Linked DNA regions of Homo sapiens: region 2 is linked to region 1. The links come from fine-mapping of genetic effects on gene expression. A gene starts in region 1. The other region holds a variant in brackets. All regions are shown on one strand. Distances are between the middles of the regions.

Region 1 (5,378 bases):
TCAGTAGCAGTGTGGTGTTTCAGGCAGAGCTCTGGCCAGGCTGTGCCAGTGTGTCCCGGACGCATCACTAAGGAAGAGAGAGTTTATTTAGTCAACTGGCCCAAGGCAGCGAGGCTTCTACAGTCCCACACCCCATAGCCGCCTGGGCTGGGGCTTACTGGGGGCTGAAGGTTCTGGACATGAACAAGGGTCAGGTAGAAGAGAAAGGCTTCCCCTACACCCCAGCCTCCTGCTGTCCCCTGAAGCCCAGGACTGCGTTGTATGCTTTCCATCCACTCACCTTACCCCATAGCATCTTGCGGCCCAGAAACCAGAGCCATTTGTCTCAGACCCTAAATCAATAATCACAAACCCCAAAACGGGAGAGAGCAGTGAAAACATGCAGGGCTGTGGACGGGGGAAGGGTTGTGGCGGGTGTTCTGAGGCTGAGAGGACACCTATATGCGTATTTCCTCTACACACATCACCCCCCTTCTATAATCTTAAGCCATGACTAGCCTGGTGGCGTGTTAGTTTCTGCCCAGTTCTACCCCCTCATGTGCTTCTTCTGAATACTGAATGTGACTGTTTGAAAGCTGGTAGAATTCATCCCTCTTACTGTAGATAACACTGCAAATCTTGGAATTTTGTTTTTTGCTGTTTCCAGATGTATCTATAAATATCTATACATTATATGTGTGTGTGTGTGTGTGTGTGTGTGTGTACATCGGGTCCTCCCATGTGTGGTGTTCTTCTGGAGGTTGTCTCTTTGGTCAAGGTGAACTTTTAATGTTTATTATTTTCTTCTCCGCACAAAGTAAAGAGCCTAATTTTGTGTATTCTGGTGGCTGCTGTCATGAGATGATAAAATGTAAAACAAAACTCTAGTCAACGTAGAAAGAGTTAACTGTGCTGAAAAACTAATAAAGAACCTAAGAAGAATTCCAGTGTGGTGATGCCATGCCCATCATGGGAGGCTTTTGGAGAAACAGAATGTTTGGGCAGGGGCTGCTGGTGCTGCTTGGGTTTTGGGTTGAGGGTGCTAGGAGAGGATGGTCTCCACCCATCTTTCTATTTCCAGTACACGTCACATTATTTTACCGGTGAGATGAGAATGTCACAAACATTAAAAGCCTTATGTGCTCATTTCTGCTTATGTGCTCATTTCTCCCCTGACTCTGTGACAAAATACAGCTCTCCTCAGCCAGGCACGGTGGCTCAAGCCTGTAATCTCAGCACTTTGGGAGGCTGAGGCGGGCAGATCACTTGAGGCCAGCAGTTCGAGACCAGCCTGGGCAACATGGTGAAACCCCGTCTCTACTAAAAATACAAAAATTAGCTGAGCATGGTGGCGCGTGCCTGTAATACCAGCTACTCGGGAGGCTGAGGCAGGAGAATCGCTTGAACCTAGGAGGCAGAGGTGGTAGTGAGTGGAGATCGTGCCACTGCACTCCAGCCTGGATGACAGAGCAAGACTCTGCCTCAAAATAAAACAAAAAAACAAAATACAGCTCTCCAGAAAAAAATGCCTTAAAGACAAAACAAAACACCCCTGCCCTCCAAATCTCTTGCCTGAGTCACTACATTCCTTCAAAGATAAATGACCTACTCTTTGCCTTCTCCTAAACATACGATCATGTCTGACAGGGTTAATGATTATACTCTGCAATCTATAACCAGATATACTTATCCCTAAACTTTGATATGATTTTACACATACTAAATCTTCACCTATGTATAACCTAAACTAAAATACCGTGTTAGAGGAGCCTCACAAGATTACTCCTGGGCTACAGGCCTCAGTCTATAGTCCTCAATAAGGCTTCTAAATAAAACTAATTTTAATTATTTAAAAGCTTAATATTTTTTCTTTAGTCAACATACCAATCCTTACATTAATTCTACAGAGTAGGTATTATCTTAGTTTCGCAGGTGAGGAGACTAAGGTTCAGGAAAAAGGATTTGCCTGAGTAACAGACCAGGCCGCGCGCGGTGGCTCACGCCTGTAATCCTAGCACTCTGGGAGGCCGAGGCGGGGGGATTGCCTGAGCTCAGGAGTTCGAGACCAGCCTGGGCAACGCGGTGAAACCCCGACTCTACTAAAAATAAACACAAAAAATTAGCTGGGCATGGCAGCGTACGCCTGTAGTCCCAGCTACTTGGGAGGCTGAGGCAGGGGAATTGCTTGAACCCGGGAGGTGGAGGTTGCAGTGAGCCGAGATCGCACCACTGCACTCCAGCCTGGGCGAGACTCCCGTCTCCCCAACGCGCCAAAAAAAAAAAAAAAAAAAAGGAAAAAAAAAAAAAACTGAGTGTTGAGCTGCGGCGTTGCTTGGCTTCAAAACCCATTCCTGTAACCTCTATATTCACAGCCTCATTTTCTTACATTTAACAGCATGCTACTTCCCCAGGTTTAACCACCATTTGTTTTATTCATTTATTTACCCAATAGGTAGATATTGAGTCCCTACTATGTCAGCTAATAAAACCCACCACGTGCTATGCAGCAGATTAAAAACGAGGATGTACTGGCAAATAAGGGCAGAGAGGATCTATTCTAGATCCAGGAGCCCTCTAGGCCACGCCACTCTGAAACACACACGAAAACTGCTCTGAACGAATACCACCAGTAAAAGGGTTCCATGGCCATCGGCAACAAGGGGTCGAGATCAGGAGGTCGCTCGCCGCCCAGTTGCGTCGCTCACCACCGGCCGGCCACCAGACCCTCGGCTTCCGATCCAGAAACCGTATTTTGTTCTTGCACCCAGACCGCAAGAAGCCTCAGCCCTCGGGGACAGACCGAAGGCCAGGGCTGTACCTGGCTCAGAACCAGGCGCCAAGCGGCACGGGACTCTCCTTCTGCACTCGCAGCGCGTGAGTGCAATTGGAGATCCTGGACTCAAGATGTTTTCATGAGGAACGATTCCAGCCCGCGGTAACTCCGGCCAGTCTGCAGCGTGGACGACAAAACAGGCACCACGTGGTTCCGGCGCCGGGGCGGGGCCAGAGACGCCGGAAGTGACCGCGCGGTGCGCCGGCCCGCGAGGAAACGCGCTCTTAGACCATGGCGACCCAGGCGAAGCGTCCACGGGTGAGTGGCGGGCGCGGGGTCCAGCCTTTTCCTCCGCGCCTCACCCCTTCTCCGTTCGCAGAACCGTCCGCCTGCGCCCCCTCCGCTCCCTCCCGCGGGTCCCGCGCCCCTCTCCGCTCGTCCCCTCCTCCACCCAAAGCCCGTTCTGCGCTCGCGCCGCGGTCTCCTGCAGTTCCCAGCGGCCTCTCTGGGGGTCGGACCTGGTCACTGCGCGCACTTATCTCAGGTGGCGGGGCCCGTGGACGGCGGCGACCTGGATCCTGTGGCCTGCTTCCTGAGCTGGTGCCGGCGGGTGGGGCTGGAGCTGAGTCCCAAGGTGAGCGAGCGAGCCGGCGGGCGGAGGACCCGCGGCGGGGCGCGGGCTGCCCTGACCAGCCCTCCTGCTCAGGTGGCGGTCAGCCGGCAGGGCACGGTGGCCGGCTACGGCATGGTGGCCCGGGAGAGCGTGCAGGCCGGAGAGCTGTTGTTCGTGGTGCCGCGGGCCGCGCTCCTGTCGCAGCACACCTGCTCCATCGGCGGCCTGCTGGAGCGAGGTGGGCACGGCGGCGGGCTAGGGCCCTGGGGCGGGGCGGGGCGGGGCGGGGCGGGCCCGGCCCGCGAGGCCGCGCCGGGGCGCTCACACCTGTGTCTTCCTCAGAGCGAGTTGCGCTGCAGAGCCAGTCGGGCTGGGTGCCACTGCTGCTGGCGCTGCTCCACGAGCTGCAGGCCCCGGCCTCACGCTGGAGGCCCTACTTTGCGCTCTGGCCCGAGCTGGGCCGCTTGGAGCACCCGATGTTCTGGTGAGAGCCTTGGGAGGGGTTGGGGAGCGCCTGCACCGTAGCCTGCTGCAAGAAGTTTCCCCGCCCCTGCACCAGTCCTACCCAGTAAAGTGTGTGAAGGAATGAAGGGAACCTGGGTGTGGGTGTCCCTGCAGGCCAGAGGAGGAGCGCCGGTGCCTGCTCCAGGGCACAGGCGTACCTGAGGCCGTGGAGAAGGATTTGGCCAACATCCGCAGCGAGTACCAGTCCATCGTGCTGCCCTTCATGGAAGCCCACCCCGATCTCTTCAGCCTCAGGGTTCGCTCCCTAGAACTCTACCACCAGCTGGTGGCCCTTGTGATGGCCTATAGGTCAGTGGGTGGGGCCTCTGAGGACGGAACCCTTTTCTTTACAACTCTATAGAGGGACAAAAGTGGAAAAACAGTGAAATCCACCCCCAGTCCCTCACCCAAGACAGGGCCTTAGCCAGGTTCTGTCAATGGCAGCTTTCAGGAACCACTGGAGGAAGAAGAGGATGAAAAGGAGCCCAACTCCCCCGTGATGGTGCCTGCTGCAGACATACTAAACCACTTAGCCAATCACAACGCCAATCTAGAATACTCTGCGGTGAGTGGAGTTTCTCTTGGTGCACTGATTGAGCATGATTCAAGCCATTGTGTCTTAGGCTCCATTCTCTTACTAGTGCTACAAAATGAGTAGGTGAAATCAGCTCCTCCTGTATGTCCTTTTAGTATGCATATTACTGTAGAATCATTTGAATGCGAAACATTTTAAAGTCCTCAAAGTAAGTTGTGGTTAATCCTCTGATAAACTATACTACCATCATTTATTTAGTGCTAGACATTGAGTGGTCTGCATAGCCATGTTTCATTCCTTTCTGGCTGATCACATCAGTGAGCCCAGACTGTGTGTGGCTCTGTGGATAGCAGCCTGGAACAGTGATAGTCTCCGTGTTTTGGAGGGATGAGGACATTCACAGGCCAAAGGTCTAAGACGATCCTAGAACTGATATAAAGCTGTGTTTATACCAGCTCTATTCTATATAAAAAGTAGCCTGAAAAGATGGCACATTTATAGGATCAGAAATTAGTAAGTATGGTTATTTCTTAATCCTTGCCTCCATTTTCCTTTCCCACTTTGATCTGCGAAAGTTCCATTTTTTCCCCCCCGAGGCGGAGTCTCACTGTGTCGCCCAGGCTGGAGTGCAGTGGCGTGATCTCGGCTCACTGCAACTGCCGCCTCCTGGGTTCAAGCAATTCTCCCTGCCTCAGCCTCCCGAGTAGTTGGAATTACAGGCTCCTGCCACCATGCCCGGCTAATTTTTGTATTTTTTAGTAGGGATGGGGTTTCTCCGTGTTGGCCAGGCTGGTCTTGAACTCCTGATCTCAGGTGATCTGCCCACTTTGACCTCCCTAAGTGCTGGGATTACAGGTGTGAGCCACTGCGCCTGGCCGAAAATTTCGTTTTTAAAGCTAGCAACTTTTTAAGTGCTGAAGAGGACTGTGCAGAAATCCACCCAGTTAAACATGAAGCTGGCCTTTTAAAGTTAG
Region 2 (5,378 bases), 55 kb after region 1:
TAAGAAAAAAAGAAAGAAAGAAAAAAAAAGGCTGAGCATAGGTGGCTTATGCCTATAACCCCAGCGCTTTAGGATGCAGAGAGGACTGCTTGAGCCCACGAGTGAGCCATGATCACATTACTACACTCTAGTCTGGGTAATAGAGTGAGACTATTTAAACAACAACAAAAAGAAATAATGCTGGCCGGGCGTGGTGGCTCATACCTGTAATCCCAGCGCTTTCGGAAGCCAAGGCAGGAGGAGTGCCTCAGCTCAGGGGTTTGAGACCATCCTGGGCAACATGGTGAAGCCCCATTTCCACAGAAAATTAAAAATAAAAATAAATTTAAAAAATAGGCATGCATGGTAGCATATACCTGTAATCCCAGGTAATTGGAGGCAAGACATCATCTCAAAAAAAAAAAAAAAAACCTTCTCATAAAGCAAAACGACAGGGTATGGGCTGACTTCCTCTCCTTCATAAAAGCAACTAGAAAAGTGTCTGAATCAACTTTTTCAGAACTTTGGAAGTTAACCAAAGGCTTATAACAAGTGGGAAATTTTTATTCAAGAGACTATCAAGTTTTCTAGCACATTAATTTGCCCTATTATTCCCATCTCCAGCTCCACAGCCAGCTTAGAAGCTGACAGCCCTCAATCACAATGAAAACCAGAAGCCTGAGAGGTGAATCAAAACAGGGTTAAAACATCTTCAAAGCCTCCTTCTCAGTGAATTGTCATTATTTCATCTGTATAGGGAGTCTGTGTGAGAACACAATGACAAGGTTGGATTTATTTGACCTGAAAACTGACCCAAACAAAAACCTTTTCTGCATGAGGTGTTTACAAAAAACATTTGAAAGTAACTGTTTTAAACTTATTGCCTATCTGAGGTGGAAGACTACTACAGTTGGAGCAAACTACATACAGGCTAACTAAAAATCTGTAAAGAAGGCCGGGCACGGTGGCTCACGCCTGTAATCTCAGTACTTTGGGAGGCGGGCGAATCACCTGAGGTCGGGAGTTTGAGACCAGCCTGCCCAACATGAGAAACCCTGTCTCTACTAAAGAAAATACAAAATTAGCTGGGCGTAATGGTGCATGCCTGTAATCCTAGCTACTCGGGAGGCTGAGGCATTAGAATCACTTGAACCCAGGAGGTGGAGGTTGCAGTGAGCCGAGATTGTGCCACTGCACTCCAGGCTGGGCAACAAGAGCGAAACTCCATCTCAAGAAAAAAAAAAAAATCTGTAAAGAAAAACTTTGAGCCGGGTGCAGTGGCTCAAGCCTGTAATCTCAGCACTTTGGGAGGCCAAGGCAGGCAGATCACGAGGTCAAGAGATCGAGACCATCCTGGCCAACATGGTGAAACCCTGTCTCTACTAAAAATACAAAAATTAGCCAGGCGTGGTGGCATGCTCCTGTAATCCCAGCTACTCAGCTGAGGCAGGAGAATCGCTTGAACCCCGGAGGTGGAGGTTGTAGTGAGCCGAGATCGTGCCACTGCACTCCATCCTGGGCGACAGAGCGAGACTCCGTCTCGATTTTAAAAAAAAGAGAGAAAAAAAAAAAACTTTGGAAGTAAAGACTAAGGTGGCTGTGAATTGCCTGGCTTAGTGCTGAATTGATTCCCAAGATTAGGTTTAAGAAAATCTCGTCAATCTTAGCTGACAACAAGGCTAACCAAGCAGGAACTTCAGTAGCCAACTATTATAAAGAACAGAATTAGTTCAGGAAAGTCACTAAACAAAAAAAGGGCAATAACGAACAATGTGCTCTGCTGAAGAAGGAAGATCTGATTCCAGGAAATGCCATATTATTTAAAGTTGTCTGTTTTCAACAAAAAAATTACAAGACTTGTAAAGAAACAAAAGGGTGTCCCATGCAAAGGGCTGGAAAGCTATGTAGAAATGATCCTTGAGGAAACACTGCTGTTGGACTTACTAGACAAGGAATTCAAATCAGTTACCAAACACATTTATTTTCATTTTATTTTGGTTTTTGAGACAGAGTCTTACTCTGCTGCCCAGGTTGGAGTGCAGTGGCACAAACTCGGCTCAGTGTACCTTCCATCTCCTGGGTTCAAGCAATTCTCTTGCCTCAGCCTCCCAAGTAGCTGGGACTATAGTCGCCCTTCACTATGCCTGGCTAATTTTTGCATTTTTAGTGGATACGGAGTTTTGCCATGTTGGCCAGCTGGTCTCAAACTCCTGATCTCAAGTGATCCACCCACCTTGGCCTCCCAAAGTGCTGCTGGGATTATAGGCTGAAGCCATGACACCCAGCCACTACAGAACACGTTTAAAAGAAAATATATCAAAAGAACTGAAGGAAAACATAGGAATACTATCTCAAAAAGCATGTCCATAGAAATTAGCAAAAAAAAAAACCAAAAAACAGAAATTCGTTTTTTCCCATCAGATACTACACTCTACAACATACCAAACAGAAAAAGTACAGTAACTGTAATAAAGTTTCACTAACCA[CAT/C]GTCCCACCACACATTCAAGCAGACAAAATAGTTCATTTGAAGATAGATCAATTAAAATTATCCAGCCTGAGAAAATGAAAAAAAAGGGGGTGGGGGGATGGGGGCTGAGAACTCAAGGACATGTGGAGCACTACTGAGTGTGCCACCACAAACATAATGGGAGTACAAGGAGAGAAGAAAAAGGTACGGAAAGATTTGTAGAAATAATGACTGAAAACCCGATAAATTTTATTAAAAACATTAATCTAGACACCCAAGAAATTCAATAAATTCTAAGTAGAATAAACTCAAAGAGATTCATACCTAGAATAACATAATCAAGCTGATGAAAGAAAAAAGACAAGGAGAGTATCTTACCAGCAGCAAGATAGAAGCAACTCATCACATACAATACTCAATAAATTAACAGCTGATGTCTCATCAGAAACCATGGAGGACAGAAAGCAGTGGGGGAGCATATTCAAAATGTTCAAAGAAAAGGAATGCCAACCAGGAATCCTTCATCTGGCAAAGCTATCCCCAAAGATACAGGAGGAATTAGGATATTCCCTAGATAACAAAAAGAGGTAATTCATTGCTAGCAGTCCTGCTGAAACAAGAAAAATTCAAGAATCCTGGCTGAAATGAAAAAACACTGAACACTGACCTGAATCCGTATGAAAAACTACTGGCAAAGATACACAGGTAAATACAAAGGACAGTATAAATCTCCTAATTAAAGAACAACTGGGCTGGGTGCAGTGGCTCATTTCTGTAATCCCAACACTTTGGGAAGCTAAAACGGGAGATCAGTTTGAGCCCAGAGGTTCGACACCAGACTGGGCAACATACTGAGAACCTCAACTTTACAAAAAATTAAAAAATTTATCAGGTGTGGTGGCACATGTTTGTGGTCCCAGCTACCTGGGAGGACCGCTTTGAGTCTGGAGGGTTGAGGCTGCACTGAGCTGTGATCGTGTCCTGCGTGGGCAACAGAATGAAACCCTGTCTCAAAAAAATAACTGCATGAAGCAAGAATTATAAACCTTTTGGTGATCACATAATGTATAAAGGTATAATTTGCATGACAATAATGGCAAAAATCAAGGGGAAGGGGACAAAGCCATACTAAATGAAATTTTTGGATCCTACCGAAACTAAAAGATTGGAGTAAGTTAAAATGTTAGTTTTAATACCCAAGGCAACCACTAAGAAACAAAACAAAAAATAAAGTCAAAGAAACATAGGAGTTAAGATGGTACACTACAAAATATCTATTTAACAGTAAGACAGGCAGTAATGGAAGAACAGAGGAACAAAAGTGACAAGAGATAGAAAGATTAACAGCAAAAGAGCCCTATATTATCAATAAATACATTAAATGCAAGACAGGCAGAATGTAGTAAACACAAACACAAATTCACAAACATGCTCCAACCATACCTTCTCTAAAAGAGACCTACTTCAAATTAAGACACATATAGCTTGAGAAAAACAAAACAAAACAAAACAAAAAACAAAACAAAAATATACCAAGCAAACCACCATAAGAGAACTATAATGGTTATACTAGTATCAAACAAAACAAATGTTTAAGAAAAAAACTGTTAATAGAGACAAAGACATTTTACAGTAAGGGTCAATCCATCAGAAATATGTAACCATTAAGGCCGGGCACGGTGGCTCATGACCATAATCCCAGCACTTTGAGAGGCCAAGGTGGGTAGATCACCTGAGGTCAGGAGTTCAAGGCCAGCCTGGGGAACATGGTGAAACCCCATCTGTACTAAAAGTACAAAAAAAAATTAGCTGGAAATGGTGGCGCACGCCTGTAGTTCCAGCTACTCCAGAGGCTGAGGCAGGAAAATCAATGAAACGTGGGAGGAGGAGGTTGCAGTGAGACAAGACAGTGCCACCACACTCCAGCCTGGGTGACACAGCGAGACACAAGACTCCATCTCAAAAACAATAATAAAATAAAGAAGTATGTAACAATTATAAAAACACATGTACTTAAAAACAAAGCCCCAAACACCTGACGGAAAAACTGACAAAACTGAAGGGAGAAAAAGACAGTTAAAATAATAGGAGGCCGGGCATAGTGGCTCATGCCTGTGATCCCAGCACTTTGGGAGGCTGAGGCGAGTGGATCACTTGAGGTCAGGAGTTTGAGACCAGCCAGGCCAACATGGTGAAATCCCATCTCTACTAAAAATTTAAAAATCATCTGGGTGTGATGGTGAGCACCTGTAATCCCAGCTACTGAGGCACAAGAATCGCTTAAACCTAGGAGGCGGAGGTTGCTGTGAACCAAGATCACACCACTGCACACCAGCCTGGGGGACAGAGGCAGACTCTGTCTCAGAAAAATAAAAAATTAAAAATAAAAAAAATTGGGCTGGGCGTGGTGGTTCACACCTGTAATCTCAGCACTTTGGGACGCCAAGGCGGGCGGATCACCTGAGGTCAGGAGTTCGAGACCTGCCTGACCAACATGGAAAAACCCCATCTCTACTAAATATACAAAATTAGCTAGGCGTGGTGGCGCATGCCTGTAATCCCAGCTACTTGGAAGGCTGAGGCAGGAGAATCACTTGAACCCAGGAGGCGGAGGGTTGCGGTGAGCCGAGATCATGCCACTGCACTCTAGCCTGGGCAACAAGAGCAAAACTCCATCTCAAAAAAAAAAAAAATTGAATACTTCTGTACTCCACTTTCAATAATAGATAGATCTACAAAGATAGGCCAGGTGCAGTAGCTCATGCCTGTAATCAATCGCAGCACTTCTGGAGGCCAAAGTGGTAGGATGCCTTGAGCCCAGGAGTTCAACACTAGCCTGGGCAAGACAGTGAAATCCTGTCTCTACAAAAAATAAAAAATTAGCTGGGCATGGTGGTGCATACCTGTAATGCCAGCTACTTCAGAGTTTGA

The links. PIP is the estimated chance that this variant, and not a neighbour inherited with it, causes the effect.
Region 2: its variant is the best candidate, but not a certain one, in a credible set for the expression of SETD6 in whole blood (INTERVAL, PIP 0.90).

What each region holds. Positions count from the first base shown.
Region 1 is chr16:58,512,495-58,517,872 of GRCh38, forward strand. SETD6 (SET domain containing 6, protein lysine methyltransferase) reads left to right here and starts at 3,023. Exons shown (of 8, transcript NM_001160305.4): 1 at 3,023-3,070; 2 at 3,297-3,603; 3 at 3,708-3,849; 4 at 3,984-4,178; 5 at 4,314-4,434. The coding sequence starts at 3,044. NDRG4 (NDRG family member 4) reads left to right here. Exons shown (of 15, transcript NM_001242835.2): 15 at 1-1,125. RefSeq lists enhancers at 2,698-2,867, 3,908-4,077, 4,727-4,896 and a silencer at 2,988-3,647.
Region 2 is chr16:58,567,159-58,572,536 of GRCh38, forward strand. The region is part of intron 16 of CNOT1 (CCR4-NOT transcription complex subunit 1); the gene reads right to left. Among named protein-coding and RNA genes, the nearest start is that of SNORA50A, 9.9 kb to the left of the region's middle. The variant CAT/C (reference allele first, on the strand shown) is at 2,466.